Regions from separate parts of the Homo sapiens genome. Here region 2 is linked to region 1. Evidence: fine-mapped expression QTL. A gene starts in region 1. The other region holds a variant in brackets. All regions are shown on one strand. Distances are from middle to middle.

Region 1 (12,200 bases):
TTAACAGTCAATCACAAAGTAGCCTGAGAGAAAGTTTCCCTGGATACTACCAAACACACAGGTTTGCAACAGATGTCTCCATGCAACTTTTAAAACAGATTCCATGTTAAGAAGTTAATATATCCTTATGTATTTACTAATCAATCCAGCTACATGTAGCCTGAAGCTGGAAAGTAAGAGGTATTAGCAAGGAAACCATTTAACTGCAAATAATGCATGGGAAAGCACCCGAAAGAATGTTATTTATAAATACAAAGACAAGCGCAATAGTACAAGCAATTGGAAAATCCCTACCTGGAAGCAACCCAAAGCAGTGCTTCTATCTGGAATATCTGGAATACATGGCACTAATAAATGTGAGCTCTTTTCTCATACCGACCACCCATCTAATCAATGAGCAGGATGCCTAGCCTTGGCAATCTCTTAGTTTTCCCATCTATAAAATGGGGATTAGAGATATGTGTTAATAAATGAAAGCTAACATTCTTCCAATGAATGACATTACAGAAAACACAAATATCACCACAAAATGTAGAAAAACATGTAATTTTATATTTAAAACTAGTTTATAGTCATGCTTTAAAGGCGATATGGTTGAATAGACATGTATTTGGACATAGATGGCTCTGCAGGGGATAAGGAGAGAGAGGGTCAGAGTGAAATGACTCATGAATTTGGGGATGCAGAGGCTCTCTGCAGCATGAAGTCACAAGAGGCTGACACCAAGGTCTCTCCTCCCCTCCACAAACAATTCTGTCTGTAGACTTCACAAGAAGGTGCGTGAGGAGTTTGGAAATTATTTTTTATTTTATACTTTTTGCATCCTTTAGTGAATGCACAGACTGGTGTATTATAAAAAACAGGTATATTAAAATAAAGCATTCTGATGTGCATTGAAAAACATTGATTCTTCTAATATTTTAAAAGGTGACAAATAAAAATGAATACCTTAAGTCTAGGAGGTTATAACTAACATCTTGACATGAGAAAATCTGGTCTAGGCAATAACACAAGTTTGTTAAAAGCTTGGAAGGAAGAAAATTCTGGGGGATCCAGATGTCTCAACTGGAGTAAAAATTTCCCTCCCCAAACAACTAAAGGCAAGTATCTGGGGCAAAAGAGTAAGCTGGCAAAATACTGTAACTGAAATGTGAGAATCCTGACCTTTTCCGAAACAGAGGGTTTCTACGAGGTTACATGTAAATCAAATCCTAAATTAAGATTTCTAGTGAAGCAGACCATTTAAAACACCCACGTTTGAAAGTTACACAAAACAGAGCCCATTTGTGGTGCAAAGAATTATTGTCTAAGTTATTCATTCTGTAAATTTTAATCTTTATCAGTTATATTTTCTTAAATATGTGTTGCAGGGTGCAGCATGCTTGTAACAACTGCTTGCTGCCCTTGAACTCTGAATGAACGCTTTACTGCAATCCCTTTCCTGAAATAGAATCATAGAATATTAGAGTAGAAGATTCCTTAGAGATCAGTTAGAACCGTGGTTCTCAACCTCTGCTACACATTGGAAACACTTGTGGAGCTTTTAAAATATACAGAGGCTCAGGCCTTCACCCCAAACCAATTAAATCAGAATGTCAGAGTGGAAGGGTATCAGTGTTTTTTAATAAGTTCCACAGGTGGTACTACTGGGCTGCCAGGATCATAAACCACTGATTTACCCTGTGTTGTCTGATACCATAGTCACCGACCACACGTGGATATTGAGCACTTGAAATGTGGCTAGTCCAAATTGAGATATGTTGTAGTTGTGAAATACACACTGGATTTCAAAGATTTAGTACCAAAAAAAAAAAAAGAGAGAGAAAGAGAGAATGTAAAGTAGTACATTAACATTTTTATATGGATTATATGTTTAAATGATAATATTTTGGATATATCAGGTTAAATCAAAGTGTTATTAAAATGACTTCACCTGTTTCTTTTTAACCTTTTTAATGTGGCTACTAAAACGTTTAAAATGAAATGTGCAGCTCACATTTGCAGCTCTCACTACCGGACAGTGCTGGGTGAGCCCGACATTCTCATCACAAATGAAGAAACTGAGGCAGAGAAGCACAATAAGCTCAAGGCAGCTCTCTGGGAATTGCGTCCCTCCTCCAGTCTCAGGCTGCTCATTGTTGCAGAGCCACGAATGGACAGAGCTTGTTATGCCATCAATCTAATTTCAACTCTTCTTCCCCCCTTTTGTTTTGCTAATTGTTTCTTCTAAGATTTGATATAAAAATCTATTTTCCTTATGGAAAAATATCTCTGCTCTGCTGTGTACACATTTGTGACTTGTTACTGCAGGATTATTCATCAAGGCAGAGTAGTTGAAATGGATGTTAAAGAATGAATCTAGGGAAACACTACCTGAAGGAAAATGCAGAGAATAGACAAAGAGAACATTTTGTCATGCTGTAGTTTAGAAAATGACCCTGGAGGCCCCCAGCGTTCTGACAGTCACCTTCGACACAGGATCATTCCCTGATATGATTTTAGAAGCTTGAGCCTATAATATTGTTTCTCCTCCTAGGAGTCAGTGTTTTTCTGCACAATGTTGTCATTGCAGTGAGGCAAATCAGACCCTTCATGATGGTGCACCACACCATAGCTAGATACCCTGGTGGAAACGGACTTTATCCCAATGCCTTCTACTGTCTGATGCATGAATTAATACCTGGCCAGTCAGAAGCCAACTTACTTAAAGGAGAAGATCTTGTTTTGATAAAGTGAAATGGTCCTACCAGATCTGGCAAATAGAGATTACATGTATTTCTTCTAATAGTCAGCTAATTCAAACAAAAACAAAAATTTTGTTGTTGTTGTTGTTGCATGTATTTTTCCCCCTTAGGAAGCCAACAGAGAGAGGACTGCATAAAACTGGCTGAAATGTGTTCTATTGGAGAAATCATGCCTGCAACACAGGAGCTCCTCAGTGTAATAAAAGAATAAAAAGAGACCTGAATTCTGATATAAAATCGCATGCAAACAGCTGGAGAGGAAACCTGTGGGTGAGGCCAAACAACACATGCAGTAGGTGCATTCAGGATTTCTATTTAGACATTGTTATTCCCCATCTTAAATACAGCACAGACTAAATATCATCTTAAATCAAATGTGTGGTGCTCTAGAGCCCTCTGTGTTGCATGCATGAATTTTTTTGGTTATGATTGGTCAAGTTTTGCCAGTCAAACCTCAAAGAACATACTTCCAGACTCAATTCACTTCTCGTCACCTCCAAACACACTCATATATATCCATCTGGAAAGATAATGTATTACAGACAGATCCTAGGCAAAGGTACACCTTCTAGAGTGAAAACATCACCCGTTTCTCTATTTGACAAAAAAGGTTATTTATTTTAACTTTAAATAATATTTCAGATCCCGTCCTCACAGATAATAGAGAAAAGACAGGTAGTAGAGAAAGTCACTGCCTTGTTCTTGAGACAGTCTTTCAGACCATTTTTAGTCCTGCCTGGTTTTTACTCTCAAATGAAATCTGGATGGTGTGGTTTTACAGGGTATGTCTCATAACAATGATGAAAAAAGGAGAATTTAAGTTAAAATTAATTAAGGAGGCCCTTATTAGAAAAAATAACATTGCAGATATTATATAAGAATGAATGAAATAGAAACTACAGTTTTTATGATTAAGGTGTTCATTCCAAAGATCTGATAAAAATTTGTCTTTGAAAGATTAGTCATCAAAAGGCTTGAAAAGAGTGAAGGATACAAAGTCATAGGTTATGCCCCATTCCTGACAAGGGCATTTATGGCAGGAGCACCCGACCTGGAGGCAGGGACCAGGCTTCTCAGCCTGGTTTGGCTCTCTCTAGCTCTGGGCCTTGGGTGAGCCAGGGGTCTCTTCTGTAAAATGAAAAATTGGTCTATCAATCCGAGGCCCTCCCCTAGCCCTACCATCCGTGTAAAGCCATAAGCCTTTGTAACTCACCATCAGAATCTCTAGGCCTAAAAGAACTCCCTCTAAAATCAGTTCTAGTCAAACGCCAGCCTGGTAGTTTTCAATCCTTGTTAAGGATTGAAATCCTAAAATCTTTTTAGGGTTAAGATCAGAAATGTAACCTTAAGGAAATAGAAGAAAGCAGCTGAAATACATATTTTTAAAGTGATAAACTGATTCTGATCTATTTCTCAGGGGGTGAGGGGGAAGGCAATACAGTGAACTTGGAAAAAAGAAATATTGAAATGTCAATATAATATCTTTTATGGGTTCAAGAATTTATCCTAAACTTTATCTTTTACTGTGACAGTCCCAGAGTCCTCAATAAGAGCTTCAAAAATTTTAGTGGGGTTTCTGGAAGAGTGCTATCACTATCTGGAAATTTCTAAAAGGCTTCTCTCTTTTTATAAAAAAAAAAATTCCTATGTTAAATCTATGATTTGTGATTCTCAACAATGGAATACTAATGGATACTCAAAAAACACTAATTGCTCATTTTTTTCCTAATTACGAAATGTAATAATTCTTTAGTGAAAACATTAAACATGATGTCATTTTTAAAGTGCCAGACTTTGTATTTAAAGCATTGCCACAAAATAGATAGCTTACTTATTTTACAAATAGCAACACAAAAAGGGTCTTCTGTGTCTTTAAGTCTGTTTAGCATATCTGAAAGTGCTTCTTCCTCACACTTAGATATTTAAGGCAATTGCCCCCCAGTTTATTACCTTATCTCAATTGTATAATTTTCTTAAATAGAATTCAGAGAAATAGTCATAGATTTAAATTTTTAAACACTAATTAAGCATTGGTTGATTCCCATAATACAGCTGGTAGTCAAAGTGGACAAGATAATGAATTGACTGAGATCACTGTTCCATCTTCATCCAAGAAAGCTGCCTCTAAAAAAAAAAAAGACCTTAAATTGCTGTAGAAATCCAATTTGTAAGAAGCAAAAGAAGCATATAGATGGGAAACACCAGCCAGGATCACATTAATTTTGTGACTAACTGCATTGCTTAGAAGAAGAAGAAGGAGAAGGAGAAGGAGAAGAAAGAAAAGATGACAAAAATAATAAGTCCACTCAAATCCCAATTTTAATCCAACAACATAACCAGAAGAAAATGAACTACAAATACAAAGTTCACATCTTAGTGATCTAGTGAACACTACACACCGACAAAATAATTTTTAGCTTAGTAAGAAGTAAACTCCAATGACAAGAAAATATTATAGGATTGTGATACCTCATTGCTAAAAAGTAGATTATAGTAAGAAATTGGGAGTCTAGGAACTTGCCATCATGGAAACTCCATGATTGATTGGTTTTGAATGTGCAGGTGTGGGAAACTGACAAATCATTGTAACAAAAATCTTAAACTTACTAGAATTGAAAATCTATGCAGGAAAAGTCTCTGTGACAAACTACCATTCATTTAGCCACCTATTCAAATAAAAGCTGTGACATAACAGAGATCTAGAAATAAGGGCATGGTTTCCAATTTTTTGTTGGAATGTTCTAATAAACTATCTTCTCAGGTATCAACTATATAAGGTCACGACTGACCGCTAATTGACAGGCAATTTATCGGCACCAGCAATTTACATTAAAAATAGTGGGCTTGGAGATATTTTCAAATATGTTTACTATGAGTTAAGTTGAAAAATAAAAACCACTATAATCAGTAAGGATTTAAAAATAAGAGATCCATATAAAATGCTATAAGCAAAGGAAAATGAGAAACATTTCTGGGGAGACACAAGTGAGTTTTATTATACTTCTTCTTTTAAGTTTTAGAACTAAAGTAATAGTTGATATTCAACCCATAGAATCATCCTTCAGGGGCATACACATCTAGGTTTGAATGCGGAAAACTGTTTTATTGTTTTTTTTTAATTTTTAGGTTTCTTTTTCAAGAACTTTCTTATTAAAACTTAAATACTTATTGAAGTGATTCATGAAACCTCACAGAAAGGGGAATTCATGCTTGACACATTACTTAACATGCTCCATAGCTTCCCCACTGTAGTTCATATGCTTCTGAACATATTTTACCTGGGAAATAATAGTCTTATTCACACACACACACACACACACACACACACACACATCCTTCCACATAAAATGCTATAAGTCCCAGGAAACTGACAAAAGCAACATTAAAATTTTGTGCAAAATCTAAACTCCATTTCTGAATTCCATCTATGAAAATACAACATTGGTTCTATTTAACTAAGTGCAAAGTTTTCTCTCTGTTTAATATGCATAATAAACATCATCCTTACCATTATCTGTAGAATAAAAGCAGCAACGTGTTGCTTCCTGCAGTCACCAAATCAAGTTTTTTCTTCCTTTCTTTCTAGTAACTTCTGTTTCACCAGCAAGATTAGGAAGAAAATAAGTCTTGAGTATTTGCCTCAGTATTTCAGACCAGAAGATAGTGAAACTAGCTTTTAGTAAAAAGAACAGGTCTGGTATTTTACAATTACTTCTGCAACCCAGAGGTACCTCCTAGACTCTGGTACCTCCCTCGTTCTCTAAGTTTCTTTTAGTAATGAGACTAATTTTTCCAGTAGTCTTGAACTCCCTAGATTTAACTGACATGGAAAATGTGACTAAAAATTTGTGGAACTGTCTAGCCTCCAACCCTACACAGAATCAACTTTGTTGTAAATGTTGAAGAACACCTCGCAAGCAGCTACATGCTCAGTTTATACTCCTGCGCTACGCAGCAGAGAACACCAAATAACAGTGCGCCATCTAGTTAGCAAGCTGCAATCTCCATGCTAGAAGGGGGGACACTTTCAAACCCTGGGAGTTAAGAACTTGTCAGGGTTCAGCTGCTCTAAAGGTCCAATTGTTTGTTTAAATAAAAAAAAATATCGCTACTGAGATAATCCACATCTAGTGGATATGGGAAAATTTAGGTTATAATGGCACTACAAACTTTTACATCTAACTTTGATTTACAAGATAAAAGCAAGTTTTAAATTAAAAGGGCTTTCTGTTAATAGAGCTTATTATTCTGAAGACGGGAATGATTTTCTTCGAAAGTTGTCCCTGGGTGCATGCCTATTATCTTTGCTTTTCCCCTTCCACTAATGAGCATTTATCTAAAGAGCCTGTTAATCCTCTGATGTGTGCTTCTGGTCAGAGGTAACAGTTTGAATAAAACCACTAATCACTGATCACTAAATCACTGATCATTAATCACACTTTCCAGTGCCCATGACTGGGCCATTTTTTTTCCTTTAAGTCTATGCATCACAAACAAGAAGTTCAACATTTTCGATGCACATATATTGTGTGGAGGTTACACTATTTCATCTCTAGATGTGAATAAATACTAAATCCTGCCACAGACTTGGGGAAGGATGTCAATTAGACCCCAGACAGGAGTTTCACAAATGCCTACCCTACAGCATGGCTTTCGCTTTGAAGAAAGTAGATCTAATTATAAGAAAACATGTGTTCTTCAAGAAATTCCCACATATTTGCAATATAAACTTTTCTTTATTTAGTTTTCACCAACTCCAAATCAGGGACCACTCCAATCCCCTCTCTCCCTCTATCCAAAACTCTGTTAATACTTTTTTAAATTTAATTTCTGCTGCACACCTCCCTCACGCCCCCACCCCCCCACCCCCCACACCGAGGGTTCTTTTTACTTTGATCCCTTGCAACAAGTCATACACAGGGTCTTTATTTCAACTGCCAGATACGGAGGTTCTGACTCAGTTCAATGACTTACGTATTCGACTTCCTCTTTCAACATAGAAACTTAAGGTTAAGAGCTAGAAACTAACGCACGCAGCAATTTATTGTATGGAAGTTTAGGTTCAACGACTCACATTCCCTCACTTTGGAAATGAAACGTTTAGTCTTGATCCTTTCAGCTAAACCTGATTTTGTCAGCATCCCTCTTCTGCTAAAGGGCAGGCACTACGTAAAGTGAAATACTTTGTTTGCAGTGGGTGTATTGCTTTCCTAAGTCACCACCACGAGGACAGAGTATTATCATAACGCTTGCAAACATTTCCTGATTTGCCTTTTCTATCAGGACTAAGCATTTTCGCCCTAGAGGAGAAGGCTTACTGGTGCCTTTCTTAAATAATACAAAAGGGCGGATTGCGCGCTGATCAGGTACAGTGGTCCCCTCAGACCCCAGAAGCTTTTACCCACACTCCAGGGACCGTGCTCGCCCCAGGGAAAGCTGTAAAAAGGCGGGGGCGGGGCTAGAGTGATAACGGTGTAGACGGGGGAGTGGTGGAGAGGGAGGGGCTGGGAAGAGAGGGCAATAAAGATGCCCAGGGAGCCGGCGATTGCACGAGTGTGTTGTGGGGAGGGTAGGGGGATGCAAAGCAGAGTTGCTTTGTCAGCATTCTAAGCTCCTGAACCCTTGAGGAGCTCAAGCCGTTAATCAAACACTTACTGGCCTGCAGAATGACGTAATGGACCTGTATCCAGTCTTTATTCCTTGACACATGTCAGAGAAGGAGGGAAAAATAAAAATCAAACACATTCTGCAGACTGACAACGAAATATACAAGTAGCCCGCTCCAGTCCCCGGCCTTGAGCAAGCATCAAGTGGGGGCGGCACCGGTCCAGGGAAAGTTGGGGATGGGGGTGAGAGTGTGGACAAGGTCTAGGGCTTTATCTACCAGACGCCCCTTAAAAATAAATCTATGGCAAAGAAGAAGCGGGATGCAGCTGCTGAGAGAAAACATCTCCTTGGTTCCTTCCTTCGCATCTTGCCCCTCTAAGAACTTCGTGAAAAGTTCAAGTGATTCTGCCGAGAATCTGCCGCAGGGGGAGACTCCGCCGCCAGGTCTTGGGAATTGCCTGGGCGCCGCCAAAGCTCGAGCCGGAGCTGTCATTTGGGGCAGCGGCCGGGAAGAGGTAACGATGCCAGCAAGAAAGCAGCGGAGGCAGGAGGCGGCCGGAGGAGTGGACTGGAGCGGACGGAGCCTCGCCGCTCTCCAGCCCGGAGCGCCTGGAGCGAAAGCCAAGCGCCCTCCGAGGGCGACCTCCCCTCCCCGGGCGCGCGCCCACCCGCTGCAGCCGGCAGCCCGGCGGGAGAGGTGGCAGCTGCAGCTCCGCACCGGGGAGAGCGAGCCCCCTGCGCGCGCGCCCACCCGCCCCCTAGGTGACCCGGCGTCCTCGCCGCGCCCGCTGGAAGTTTGCAAACTTTCTCCGGGGGTTCCGCCGCCACGCTGGGAAGCTGGGGACGCGGGGGGAGGTTCCTGGCTCGCCGTCTCCGCTGCCGCTTGACCGCACTTCTGGAGGGCTCCGCACCTTGCCAGGTCTCTGGAGGCAAACACACACCCCCGATTCATAACTGGTCCCCGCGTCAGGGGACTCGCGCGCTCCCACACACGCACGCACGCCGGGCGGACTCGGCGCCGGCTCCACGTTAGCATCCCTCCAGGCGCGCGGCGCGGCGGCCACCGAGCGCTCCGGCACTCACGCGGCGCGGGGTCTCTAGGGTGGCCTCAGGACACAGCCGAATTCCACAGTCTACCAGCACTCGGGGCCGGACTTCCCTCTGGTCCGCCAAAATGTTTACAAACACAGATCACCCTCCAGAAAAAAATGCATCGCATCTTCCCTACTCCTTGCCCTGTGACCTGCCCACTGGACCAAGTAACCTCGCGGCTGCTGCCGAGAACCAACCCCTGCAAACAAGTACACTCCCGAGATGGCTCCTGCGGCAAGTGCAACAAAAGTGGCTAAATGCAAAAGCCCCAGAAGTGGCCGAGCCGTATTTTTAGGAACTTACCAAACAAGTGTGGAGAAGGCAAGAGCGGAGCCCGGGTGAAGGGACCACGTTGGACTGAGCAAAGATTACAATACATTCTATTTAGAGTGCATTACATCACCCCCCCGGTGACGTCACGTGGGATTCCTGAACTTCTAAATCATTGCGGTCCGCTGGGGAGGGACGGAGCGAGGGGCGGGGCCGGCGCGTCGAGGGGGCAGGCCCCGCCCCGGTCCCGCCCCGACCCCGCCCCGCCCGCGCGGACCCTGGTGCACCCGCCCGGGAGCGGCAGCGGCGGGGGCGACTGCGCAAGCAACAGCTTGCAGAGCCCAGCGCCGTGTGACACGGCTCCCTGACATTAGTGGTGTGAGTCAGCTTGGAAACAATCCTTATGGTTTCAGACAAGACCACGGAGGAGGCGCGGGCGTGGGCTCTTCTGCGGGGAGGGCCTGATGGGGTTTGAAAGGTGTAGGGATGGGGGTAGGGGAGAGGTGGGGAGGGGGATGCTGAAGGATGTGGGAAAAGACTTTGCAAACAGAAATGCAGGACGCTCCTCCCTCCCCCACCGGAGGATGTCCAGCTCCTTTTTGCTTGCGACAGTCATGACCTCATTTCAGTGCTCCCTGCATCCTGGCTTTTCAGAGCACTCACTTGTCACCCCTTCTTCACCGCCCCCTCATCTCACCTCCTCCAGGAGAATAACTTCCTTATGGTGCACACTCTCATGAAATACACAGCCCCACCCTTCGCGGGACCCCTGCTTCATGCGTCTGAGAAGCTGTAGGGAGAGTTGCTCCTAAGGCGAAAGGTGAATCACAGCTAGAGCCAAGTGATGAGCCTGATTTAGACACGGCGTCAGAGCCGAAAGGGCCCTTGGCTGTCACTTCCAGAGCCTCTTCGGTAACTGGCCCAAGCTCACGGGCTGGGGAGCGGCAGAGCCAGGGCCAGACTGCAGGATCCGGGCGCCTGGTCTGCAGCGAGAGGAGCCTGGCGTCTCCAGTATCCGGCCGTCACCATCACTGTCACCATCCCCCTGCTGAATTTCCTTTCAGAAGTTCTCCCTTTGAGTAGGATTCAAAGAGAAGGCATAGGCTAAATCCAGCCCGATTCTAGACGACCAATGCCAACCTCGCAGCCCCTCACACCTTACAAAGCGCTTGCGACCACGTGATTTCCCTTGTTTCTCACACCAACCCGGGTACCAGAAGTAGGACAGGTATTATAATTATTCCCATTCTACAGGTGAGCTAAGGCAGACACCAGAAGGTTGGGGGCTGGCCTGAGATCACTTGATGAGCAAGGGGTGGCACTGGGCCCAACTCAATCCCTGTTTTCAAGCCCAGATCCCAACTGGGCTCCTTCATAGAGCCAGGGGTAAGCATTCCCTTCTTGTGGGTTATTGGTGGTTGGAACCTCTGCTAAGAACACATTGGCTGGGAGATGGAGCTTTGCTTAGAAACAGTTTAGCCCTCGTTAATAAACAATAATCATTTCTGACATTTATGTAACATCTGACATTTATATAGTACCTCTCATCCCAATGCATCACAACCATGACGGTGCAGTTTGCCAGAGAATCATGACTGGACTGGCTAGAAACTGTAATACATTGCCTGGATTGTCACATACTTCTGAGCTGGTTTTGACATACTAAATGGAAGAGCTTAGCATGTTGTTTCTGTTTTTAAGTGTTTAAGTGGCCCCTTGCCCTTTAGTGTTCCTTGAAACCACAGGGACTGATGACTGTTTGATCCTCACAGCCTTATTCAGAGTTCATCACTGAGTTTTCTACTTATTGTAGAAATAAAATCATTGCAATTTCATGCAAAAGGTTTCTAGCTGTCATATTACAGACTGAGATTTTTACATATTCCAGATCTCACACACACACACAAATCATTTCTAAATGTAAACTGAAGAAAAGAAGAGGTATTTATTAGTGTAGATTCTAGTGTCAGCCTGCCTGAATTCAAATTTTAGCTCTGCTACTTGACGCCTGGTTCTCAGTTGCCTCAACTATGAATGAGGATGGTGATGATAACTACAGCGACTCGAGTTAAGAATTTTATTACTTGAGTTAAGAATTGTGCTTGGGGCCGGGCACGGTGGTTCACACCTGTAATCCCAGCACTTTGGGAGGCCGAGGCAGGTGGATCACCTGAGGTCAGGAGTTCGAGACCAGCCTGACCAACATGGTGAAACGCCCGTCTCTACTGAAAATACAAAAATTAGCTGGGTGTGGTGGTGGGTGCCTGTAATCTCAGCTACTCGAGAGGCTGAGGCAGGAGAATCGCTTGAATCTGGGAGGCGGAGGTTGCAGTGAGCTGAGATCACACCATTGCACTCCAACCTGGGTGACAAGAGCGAAACTCTGTCTCAAAAAAAATAAAAGGAAAAAAGAAAAAAAAGAATTGTGTTTGGCACAGGGCAAGTACTATGGAAGCACTCACTCTCTTTTTATTAATAAAGGTATTT
Region 2 (12,200 bases), 270 kb before region 1:
ACCAAGATTTCCTCCCCACCATCCCACTATGTGCCAGGGGCCTTAAAACCTTATCTCCACCCCTCGCAATGGCTCCTCGAGGTCAGTCTGGTTATCCACAATTCACAGAGAAGGTAGGAACTGTGGCACAGTGAGGTGAAGTGGCTTGTCAAAGTCACACAGCCAGTAAGTAGAAGAGTGATTGAATCCAGGACTTTATAACCCCAAAGGCCATGCTCTTTTCAGGAGACCCCACCCTGCTTCTCTGACTGGCAATGCCTGCTTGATATTATCCCCATCCTTCCTGCTGTAAAAGGGCTCACCAAGGGAAACATGTGAGGGCGAGGAGGAAGAATGTGAGTTCAGCATCGACTATGGTGATGCTTAGGCATGGACAGCTGGCACTGTTCTGCTCTGTGTCTGGTGGGCAGAGGGAAGAGATTGATGCCTCTTCTGTTGCTTAGCAAAGCCATCTCTCCTCCTCCACCTGCTCACCTGTGGAGCACAGCCCCAGGGACCCCTGTGGAAGGCAAAGCCCATGGACAGGCCATGTCCAAGGGAAGGTAAAACACAGTCACTGTCACCAAGACTCCCCAACTGGGTATTTGATGACTTCCACTGACAGGCAAGGGCATTAGACCCCTTCCCTTACCAAGTCAGGATGGTGATGGAAAGTTTGTTGGTGATGGTGAGCTAGACCTAGAGTGAACTGGACTCCAATTGCCAGAACTTATATGTACTTGGGTAAGCCTGACTCTCAGTTTTTACATTGACAAAAACAACACACACACACACACACACACACACACACACACACACCAAATACAAGTAAAATGGGAGAATTCACAGCCCATAAACTTTTCTAAGAGATCCTGCACATCCTTCAGATTCATGAAATGGTGTCAAAAATGCAGCAGACACAGGCTTTTGTGCTTCAGTTGCTCGCAAGGAGCAGAACAGTATTTTTAATAAATTTATTCCCCCAAAGATTGCATGACTACTTGATAAGTTTCTATAATTTTAACATAAACTTGAGTTTTTAAAGGAGATTTAAGGCTGCATTTGAAAACCTTCAGAAATCATGAAAGGCAAAACTGTATGTGCTTGTTCATACAGGAACGCAGAACAGGATCAATGGATTGTAACAGTGTCCATATTTTGATTGTAGTAATGTACTACAACAGTTTTGCAAGATGTTACCATTGAGGGTAACTGGGCAAAGAATACATGGGAATCTCTCCATATTATTATTATTATTATTAAGACAGAGTCTCGCTTTGTCGCCCAGGCTGGAGTACAGTGGCTCGATCTCGGCTTACTGCAAGCTCCGCCTCCCAGGTTCACACCATTCTCCTGCCTCAGCCTCCTGAGTAGCTGGGGCTACAGGTGTCCGCCATCACTCCTGGCTAATTTTTTGTATTTTTAGTAGAGACGGGGTTTCACCATTTTAGCCAGGATGGTCTCGATCTCCTGACCCACCCACCTCGGCCTCCCAAAGTGCTGGGATTACAGGCGTGAGCCACTGCGCTCGGCCCTCTCCATATTATTTCTTATGAATGCATGTAAATGTATACTTATCTGAATAAAAATTTTTAATTAAAAACCAAAAATCAAAACAAAAACCATGAAACAGAACAAAATAGTCGTCAAACAGTGGAATTAATAATTTTTAGCCCTCTGGGTTACCGTGGGTAAGTGTAATGAGCTGAGATCATGTAAGTGCAACCTGGTATCACAGCCGGCATGGAGAGGCCACAGCCAGGCTAGTGCTCCTGGCCTTGTCTCTGTCAGTCACAAGCAGAGCATTACTGAATATGAGTGAACAATTCGGAGCCAAGTCGACATAAATTGTAATGCTCTAAAAAAAGAAATCATGCCCTCTTTATTCCTGAAGAGTCCCAAGCATACACTTGGCACTCATCAAACTATGCACAATGACTAATAATCTTCACCACTGGTTTCATTTTAGCTCTGGGTAATTTCTTCCCACAGATAGGCATAGTTAAGGTCCTTCCCTGTGCGCAATTGAGCTGGGCCATAAGTACATAACTACATACTTTACAATAAGGCTACTACCCCGGATACATAAATATATACTTTATAATAAGGCTACTACCCTGGAATTTGCCTGAAGAATAGGAGTATTGTCTGGAAAATTATCTAACAAGCACATACGGTTTTGCTTTTCATGATCTTTGAAGGTTTTCAAATGTAGCCTTAAATCTCCTTTAAAAACTTGAGTTTATGTTAAAAATACAGAAACTTATCAAGTAGTCATGCAATCTTTGGGGGAATAAATTCATTGAAAATACTGTTCTGCTCCATGTGAGCAACTGAAGCACAAGGGTCTGTGTCTGCTGCATTTTTGGCACCATTTCATGAATCTGAAGGATGTGCGGGATCTTTTAGAAAAGTTTCTGGGCAGGTGAATTCTCCCCCTTGTCTACTCTGCCACTCTTTTTGGCAGTCTCACCTAGGTAATTTATCTCATTGAGGTCTCCTCAAAGGTAGCATTTGAAAACTAAAAAGTTTACCATGTTTGTTTTTTTGCCAAAAAGCAAGAAGTAAACAAATAAAGATCAAACTTCAAAGTGGGGAAAGATATACTCCTGTCCATCCTCCCCCATTCATTTCAAGTACTAATTCATCCTGAATTTCAAATGTACTTTTCTCTGAAAAGCTATGCTAAATACTCTGTAGCAAACTTTTGTATAGAACATGGATATAAACATAGAACTTTCGAGTGGAAAGAGACTCCAGAGATCATCTAAGATTGGTTCCCCATGCGGGGAGGAGCTTCTAGCCCACCTTGCCCTTTCCTGCTCTTTAGAGTAGTGCCCAGATGGTTTAAGTGATTTGCTCAAGGTCAAGCATCAGAATCAACACTCAGGCCTCCTCACACATCATGCTACTTCCTCCAAAAATTACTTCTCCCCTCTGCTCCCCACTTCCACCTCTGCCCAAAAAAGGAGGAAAGAGAGAAGATCCATAAAGTCATAATGAATGATATCCAAAACATGCGTTAAATAAATAGACACCTTTCTGGTATGTGCCGCATGCCTCAATATGCATCCAGCTGTAGGATGATCACGTCTAAATAAGCCCAAGAGAAGTTTTGAAGTTCCCAGAATGAGAAAGTGTTTGCCCTCTTGTTTTAGTGGGTTTCAGTTTATTACTATCTAGTAATGCCGGATGGTGTCAGAAAGCACCCAACTCAGGCAGCATATCACAATACGAAATCTATTCTATGAAACAGAAATGTGGTAATAATTTTCAAAACATCAAAGTCTCTCTCTCTGAGTACACGAGATCCTTAAAACATTAAGAACACAATCCTTTGCCCCCTCTCCCTGTATTTCCTGTTAATTTCTTACTCTGAAATATTAACTGTTTCTAAGACAACTCAATCAAGAAGTCTTCATCATCGCCCCCTCACTACTGAAGCATATCATCTAAAAAATTAATTCAAGAACATAAAAGTCTTAAAGATAGCACCGGATTAATTAGCACGTGGAACAACAGAATGTCAACATGCTCAAGCAAATGCACAATTGCTGTTAACCTTCACTGAAATAATAGGGGAAAGGCTATAACTACTTTTGAGGATCATCATCTATTACTTTTAAAAGCTGCAGTATATTCTTAATAATAAATGGAACAGCACAATCATTCACTTTTCATACAACACACAGTTTTCCAGTCATTTACAATTCACCAGTTACACTCAAAAATCGCCCCCCCAACCCCCCAACCAACCACCACACCATCACTTCCACCTTTTATGAAAAGACAACAGTTTTAAGCCATTTAAAAAACAGAGAGAGAGAATCCTGGCAGAAAATAATACACAGCTGTGATAATATCGTGTTATTTTAAAATACCATAATATAGTTTTACTTTTAATAATAAAAGATAAAAAAGGAGCGTCTGTGAATAATTAGAGATTGCAGTCTGAAGCCGGTTACAGTCACTGCAATTGATAATAAACTGAAAACCCCTTGAGAGCAGGTAAATGCTTTGCAACCCTGACCCCCTCGCTCTCACATTACTTAACTACCCTTCGGTTCTTGCATTACATCACCATTCAAGCGATTGGTTCCTGCATTTTAACTCTCTCCCTGTCTCCTCCGATTAGGAGCGACACCGCAGCAAAGAAACTTCGCCCGAGTTTGCTCTTTCTCGCTTCGCTCTTTATTTGTGGCCCTTTTGCTCTGGTTGCTTTGGTTTGCTCTGCTTTTTTTTTTTTTTCTTTTTTCCTCCAACCCGGCCTCTGTTCAACTCATTCAGGTCTCTGTGCTAGAACAAAAACTCTGATCGAAGTGAAAAGAAATGCCTCTTCGGGCAAGAAGAGGAGCGGAGGGGCTGGGGAAAGAGGAGAAGGAAGAAGAGGAGAAACAAAGACGGGCAGAAAGGGAGAAGGGGGAGAAAATGAAGAGGAGGAGGAGGAGGACGAAGGCTCAAAAACAGAAGGCAGTAGGGGCAAAAAAAATCTATAAAATCAGGAGAAAAGAAAATAAAATTAAAAACAAACCTCATGGACATCACTGAGGCTGAATTCCCTCCTGAGGTGCAGAACATGAGAGCTCTGGAATGAGTGTGTGTAGAATTTGAGCCAAAGCTTAACTAGCTTGAGTGAGTCATATCCTTCCCATTTGATTCCAGGCCAAGCGATGATGTAATGTGCTGGCCCTTCTTTTGCGCCTAGCTCTGGCTCTCCCTCCGGCTGGGCTCTCGCTCACTTGCTCTCTTTCTCCTGGTCTCGCCCTCCTCCCCCTTCTCCTTTTTAGCTCAGTGCTAGTGAAGTCACCACTTAAATCTGGCAGAACTGAAGCAAAAACTTCAATGTAACCAAAACAGCCCCAGGCTGAGTTCCAGGCTCGGAGAGCCTTCGTGGTGCACTTGCCCTTAGAAACGGGTAAACAAAGGGGGAAACAGTGCCGCTGGGGATGGCCCTACAGCTGCCATCAGAGAGCTCCAAGAGGGACCCGGAGTTCTGCAGGCAGGGGTCAGCTGGTTCTGCTGGAAACAAAAAAAAAATACTGGTTAAAAAAAAAAAAAAAAAAGAGTGCCCTGTGTTTGGAGAAAGGGAAATAACATCAAGACACGTGTAGAGATGGGGAAGCAGGGAGTGAAAGATGGCAGGTTGGAAGGTCTGAGTGTGAAAAACTAACCTCAGTTAGCAGCTTGGGCTTTGGTTCAGAACCAGGTGACAGGGTTTCCATCGCCCAGGGCCCTTTTTTCCTGGAGCTGGATGGGATTTTCTGTTGCTGAATGCCAACCACCAGCCCTCCGGAGACTTCTCGCATCTGACCTCCCTGTCAGCGAGGGCAAAACCACTTCTGGTCCAAACACGTGCCCGTGTCTGGAGCCACCAAGGGCTGTGAAATCACAGTCACTTCTCCCTTGGCCCCTATGGGTCACCCTGTCAGGTGCTAAAGGAAAAAGACCCCAGCCACAAAACACAAAACTTGCCTTTCTGAGATTAGCACTCCACCCTCAGGTGAACCTTCCAAAGGAGAGGGAAGGAAGACAAGTTCTCCCTTAAAATGAAAGACAGGCTGTGCCCCCACAACTCAACTCGCTGGAGGGGGTGCTGGTGTGGGTGGGGCCGTCTGTGACTTTAAAGAGGAGAACAGACAGTATGTGTGTCTCTTTTTTAATTACAGAGTGAGGAAAAACAGCCTGGGGAGGTGGGGGCAGTCAAGCATGATCCTTCACAAATGACAGTGAAGCCTTTTTAATGGCTGAATTCTACCCCTCACTTCACACCTCCCCACTCAGGGCTCCACCACGACAATGACAACAGTCCAGACACTACTCTATTAGCAGGGCTTTTTAACCCCATCATCTCTCCGTTTTGCTATTTCTCCCCACACTTCATGTTTCCTTCAAAAAGAAAAAAGTAACATGAAAATGGGAAGTTCGCTAGAATTTTTTTTAAATACCACAAAAGCAGAAGAAAGGCATGAAGCTGCAATTTTTTTTTCCTTTTCCAAAAATGA[C/T]CATGGCTTGTGCTACAGTCTATTGCCCCTAATGCCTTTTGTGGCCAATGAATCAGGTAGATAAGACAAACATTGTCTCTGCACGTTGCAAAGCACAGAGGATCTTGACTTCTAAACTGTGTTTTTGGAGAAATCTCTCAGCTTATTAAAGACGTCCACTGATGGAGGTCAGGGATATTCATCTGAATCCCCTGGAATTTAAATCACAGCTTCAGGGAGTGTTGCCGTACTCAGGGTGAAGAGTTAAAAAGCAATATTTGCCCAAGGGTCTCCAGGACCCTGGGGGTTGGGGTGGGGAAGTGCTTTCTCCAGCAAGCTGCCCTTTGGCTTGACATCCTCAATTGATGCTGATGCCACAGTAGCTCCGAGTGACACCTTTATCAAGGCAGGCAGCTCTGAATTAGAGGTGATCAGCCATAATTACAGCTGGCGCCACTGAAGCCTGTGGCCTGACAGCGGCAAATGTGGTTGTTATAAAGTTTGGTCCACCATGTCAGTGGCCTGTATAACTCATTTACGTCTGACTTGCCAAGCAGACATTGATTTTTCTTCTGCTAAGGGGAATAAATAAAACAAAATTTTCAATAACTTCTACAAGCCTTTACACTTCAAGGCAGGTTGGCAAGATTTTGCATAAGCTACTTTTTCCTTTTTAAATGAGCCATTGACCATCTTGGTTAATATCAAGCTATGGACTTTCACTTTCCCTTCCCTACCCCCCAAATCTCCCCTCCCCACTTTAGTTTTCTTATTTAAATGTTTTATTTATGTTACTATTTTTGGTGCAAAATGGATATGTGGTAGAGTTTTCCAAATTTACATCTTTTTGTAAGCTCAATGGGAAAATGTTCTCTGTAGGATTTTCCTTATACCACATTAGAGGGCCGGGGTGAATCCACTAGATACCAGGCTTCTGCTGTTTTTCAGTGACATAGGCAAAAGGGACCCTGTGCTTTAAATAGAGGTGATGTAAAGATGGCTTTCCTGTGCCTTGCTTGGGAAGTAACAAAGGAGATGATAGCTTCAGCCAATGCCGGGCACGGATCTCAGATGAGACCCGCCAGCATCATTGCTTCTGCCAGGAGGAGTAAGAGAACAAGAGGTTTGAAGGTGGCCAGTGTGCCTCTGATCAGGGAGTGACATCGCCAATGGGTACAGTGTTTCTAAAACCCAGACAAATGCCAAGGACCCAGAAATGTCTGGGTCTGATGATGACGCCGTTAAGCCACCAACGTGCCAGAACACTTCGACATCCCAATAAAACAACTTTGGAGTGCTGGCCTGAATTGAAATCAATTTCAGAGTTCAAAGGTCTGCATATTTACATTTGCACTTGTTGTTCGGGACATAACTATTCCCTCCTGCCCCTTCCAAATCAGGCATTCCACTGGCTGCTGGGTGCCTCCCCACTTGAAAAGAAGCCCTACTTTCCCATTTTCCTTCCTGTGAGCAGCTAAAGAGAGACAAGATCCTGTTCCCAAAAAGAAATGCCCCTCTGACTCAAGAGATTCCTTTTTCACCCATTTGGCCTTCTCCCCTACCCCATGTCCTAGCTGCTCCTCTGAAGAAGGGGGGCTTCGTAGATAGAAGTCATAAGATGCTGTAATTCCAGAGGGAGGCTTCTTAGAAGTAGCCCCCGGCCAACAGGCTAGGTCTCCAGATTAGCTGGCTTGCTCAGGAATGCTTACAACACCCTCCTTTGCAGAGCGTGTCATCCTTGGGGAGAGGGTGGTGGGTACCGCGCAGCTGTTCGGTGTAACTCACTCACACACTCCCAGCCCCTGATGAAATGTTCGGCTCCGAAGAAGTGGAAACCTTTGAGATTTGAGCTCAGAGTTCAGAATGCTTTTGGACTCTTTCCAAATAACCCAATAGAAAAGGCACAACTTGGATTGCAGGGATGGAGGGGCTCAACAGCCAACTAGAGTAGACCTTTTGTGTGCCTGGGTGAATTTCTGAGCTCAAACACGTTATGAGAAACATAGCAAATATGAGAAACAATGGAGATCCTTCCTAGAGAGAGCTGGGGTTTCCCCCCCCCCCCACTTTTAGGTTTGAATTTATTCTCCTCAAGGAAAAGTATATCATCTTCTTTCAAATGTTGTTTTTAAAATTTAACCCAAGATTTCTACAGTCCCGGTGGAGTTTGAGGGGCCAGATAATTTCAGAGTTAAATAAGCTGTAATGACTATCACATGTACCCAGCCATAAACCTAGTATTAAAAATTATTCAGAAAAAAGTGGCATCTCTTCCTTTTTTAATTTACAATAACCATCCAGGTGGTTTTCTAAGTCCTCCTTTGCAAATTGCTTCCAGTGAACCCTCTGGTCACAGACCACTGCACACCCACATGGTGTCATTCAGCATTCCCTTCGACCTGGGTGTCCCGTGTTTTCACAGTGGACAGAGGATGAGGGGCCGCCTAGGTGACCTGGTGCAGCATGCATCCTGAACCATGTGCAGGCAGGATTCACTGGCTTAAATTGTCAGCCCTGCTGAAGTCAGCTCCAGGTGCTCCCAGAGAGAAGACAAGGGAGTGATCTGCCCTTGGTGACTCCTGTCGTGTAACTACTGCACCTCCTATACCCCAACCCTGGCACTAAGTACCCTTAGGCAATTCACTGGCCTTTCCTGTGTCAAAACCTATTTGTAATTCACGGATGTGGCAATGCTGAATGTGTCTCAAACAAAGGAATGAATTTATAATGGTGGAGGCATCAGGAAACCTTTGGGGGTGGATATTAAGAGGTCACAAGAGCCATTTGATTAGCCCTAAAATATTGTCATCAATTCTGCTTCCTATAGTGTTTTTTCTCTAACTTCTTAAAATGTGCAAGTCATTGTACCACTTAAACCTAAACCAATGTCTGAAAGACCGTTGACACTCCTGGAATATTTGTTGAATAAATGAATGAGTGAATGAATGAATACAATCCTCAGCTCAGGCATTATCTTTTCCATGGTCTCCTTGCTGGGCTACCAGACTGGGATAAGGGTGGCCATTACTCTGTGCTCCTTTGGCGTCCTGAAGCAGATTGTATCCCAGCAATAAGCCAGCTATGGAGAGGATCTCTTCATGCTTGTCTTCTTCAGCAGCCATTTGCTTCTCCAGGGCAGAGACTGTGCTATACATCTTCATTTCCCTAGCACCTAGCACCTGGCCCATACATAGTAGGTCCCTAAGAAATGTGACTGGGACTGGGCGTGGTGGCATACATCTATAGTCCTGCTACTGGGGCTGAGGTGGAGGATCACTTGAGCCCAGGAGTTCAAGACTACAGTGAGGCATGATCGCACCACTGCACTCCAGGCTGGGAGACAGAGCAAGATTCTGTCTCTAATAATGATAATGATAATAATAGTAATAAATTAATTAAAGAAAAAGAAATGTAACTGAGCCTGAACTAGCGGCAACACAGGCTGCTCGGTCTTCCCTGAATATGTTGCCTCCTGAAAGTTCTTTTTCCTGTTTGTATTATTGCTCACACTTTTTATGCAGCTTCCTAAAGATCTGAAGCATCTAGAAAACCTATAATAAGAAAATCCTAGGAAATCTACTAGTCAGCCTTCTCCATCCCTACACTATACCTTTTCTCCCTGGAGGGCCTCAGATTCCTCTTGCTCCCTTTTTTTGGACCCCCACAGCAGGGATGGCAGAATGAGCACTCTGTGGTGGATGTCAGAGCAGCTGATCCTAGACTATTGTCACCAGCTTCCTACATGAGGCACCCAGGGAAATTGGAACTTGAGGTGAGAGCAGCTAAATATTCTCCTGTTGGGACTTCTTGCACAGTTGTTGAGGTGCCCTAAAAAAGGAGACACTGCCACCAGGACTTTATCATGTCCAAAGAAAGGTGATGTCAGTTCTAACCAATCTCTATGACTAGAGTGGGCACTACAGGAAGAACTCAAATAATGGTGGGGGAACAGGAGGTCCAATTTTTTTTTTTTTTTTTTGAGATAGGTTGATACAGTGTCTTGTTCTGTTGCCTAGGCTGGAGTGCAGTGGCATGATTTCAGTTCACTGTAGCCTTGACCTCCTGGGCTCAAATGATTCCCCCACCTCGGCCTTCTGAGTAGCTGGAACTACAGGTGTGCACCACCATGCTTGGCTAATTTTGTTTACATTTTGTAGAGACAAAGTCTCCCTATGTTGCCTGGGCTGGTCTTGAACTCTTGGACCCAAGTGATCTTCCCAGCTTGGCCTTCCAAAGTGCTGGGATTACAGGTGTGAGCCATAGTGCTCGGCCAAGGAGGTCCAAACTTTTGTGGGTAAAAGTTTATACGGGATTGGAGCCTAATGATGTTGTCAGACTAACTACACTGATTCATGTTCTGGTGTTGAGTGGAGCCAAGACAAGGCATAGTAGCTGATCAAGACTGGCTCAGAGCAGTTATGCTTGGGAGAGGTGGACAACCCAACTGATGATGTCCAAGAAAGAGGCCTTTCCTGGAGGCTCTGTGGGGAACCTTGGTTAAAGGAGATTATCAACCAAATTCCTACTTTCCCCTTTGACCAAGGGTGGTGACTGGACCAGTCCAGGTTGAAGCAAGTGAGGTGCCTAGGGTGCAAAATTTAAGGAGGTACTCACTCTCAGGTGCAGGTCTGCAATTGTCCAACCCTGAGAATAATTGCCCCCTTAAATGTTGAGCCATAGGGGGCTCATTTGTGCCCCTTAGTCCCAGCCTCGTTTGGAGATAATTTTCTACTCTGTGTACTCATGAGCATGGGTAGGGTTAGTAGAAAAATATCAGGTGAAGCTCTGGGCCTGCCTGGCTCTTTGGGGAGATGGAGAATGATGCCTGCAACAGACTAGACTCTTCCTTAGTGTCAGCTTTCATCAGCCTTTCCTTCTTCTCAATTAGCCACTGTGAGCTGAGAGCTGAACTAAAAGTTGTCTGATACCAAAGTTGGGAATGCGACCATTCGCTGTTTTGTACTGATACACTAACACCTTTTATAATCCAGGTGTTCCTCATGACCTGGGTTAATCCATGTGTCCAGAAGCAAGCACTGTTACCGGCCCTGGAATCAGGAGAGGCAATGTGGGAAGACAACCATCTTAGGAACATCATGATTCTGACCAGGAAGATTTTCCAAGGGATGAGGGTTGGAGTAGAGGCAGAGAAGAACAGAGCATTTTTGTGGCATAACATCAAAAAGTAAGAAATGTAGAAGGCCACTTCCCTCGGGTCCTAAGAAGGCCTTACACTGCTCACCTGGTCTTCGTCCCCTCCCTTTTACACCCTGAAATCTCATCAGGGCCCACACTCTGAGCCAAACTTGCAAAGTAAATGCCTGCCTCTTTCCTGGAACCCCTAAGCCACTGGTTTCCAAGGCTGCCCTGGTGGGTCTCCCCATTTCACAGAGAGGAAAACTTGGGGCTGCCAGAAGCTGACCATCATTTGCTGAGAATTTTTATCTGGAAAAGCAGTTCATGGGGACTTTCATAATCAGTGGAAAAATGTTGTCCCTTTGCACATGATAAGTTCAAAACACTGCAGTATCTGCTTTCTGAATATTCTCCCTCTGTCTCCCCTCAGCACTTTGCAATTCCACATAAAGGCCCTCAGAAAAGGATTACTTACGTATCTGCAGGATAACCCTGAAAATATACTCCGCTGGCTGTTTTCATTGTTAAAACATGCTTAAATGAAAAAAAAAAAAAAAAAGAACTACAAAAGTAAAAATGAGTTTGAAGAGGTTTTGAAGGTATTAGAAATAAAAAGGCAAGCTTAAACTAAGGAATTGTATTTGTGGTTTCATTTCTTTCCACAAGGATTCCAGCTGTAGAGCTCTGTGTCTATCTAATAACTGACCTTCTCTTACACTGAGCAGAGAAGTTCACCAGCACTGATTTATTAAGAGGGTTTCTGCAAGGAGAATTCGCCCTCCAACACTTTTGCCCGGAGGGGATGAGAAGAATTTTTTTTAAACCCCAAACATGAAGCTCTTGGGTCTTCCAAATGAAATTATCTATGTTTTTATTAACTGGGCCCCTGAGTTAAAAAGTTGGTTTTGATAAGGGTGAATAAATGAAAGAGAAAACTGCTGACATAATATTTTGGTTTCCAAACCCACTTCCACATTCTACTGTCCCTCTCAGGCCCATACATGACTGTGGTTTCTCTATTTACACCAGAATCCTGGAGAGAAAGGTGCAGTTAATCCTGCTTTATGGTAAAATTCATCTCTAAACTTTAATAAAATGATCATA

Evidence for each region.
Region 2: its variant is fine-mapped to the expression of CREB5 in whole blood (TOPMed, PIP above 0.99).

What each region holds. Positions count from the first base shown.
Region 1 is chr7:28,406,970-28,419,169 of GRCh38, reverse strand. It overlaps CREB5 (cAMP responsive element binding protein 5), which reads right to left and starts at 6,652. Exons shown (of 11, transcript NM_182898.4): 1 at 6,253-6,652. The coding sequence starts at 6,255. RefSeq lists an enhancer at 6,566-6,655 and silencers at 9,928-9,997, 9,966-10,260.
Region 2 is chr7:28,678,508-28,690,707 of GRCh38, reverse strand. The region is part of intron 5 of CREB5 (cAMP responsive element binding protein 5); the gene reads right to left. Among named protein-coding and RNA genes, the nearest start is that of CREB5, 270 kb to the right of the region's middle. RefSeq lists enhancers at 4,781-5,289, 5,506-5,555 and a silencer at 5,228-5,397. The variant C/T (reference allele first, on the strand shown) is at 5,982.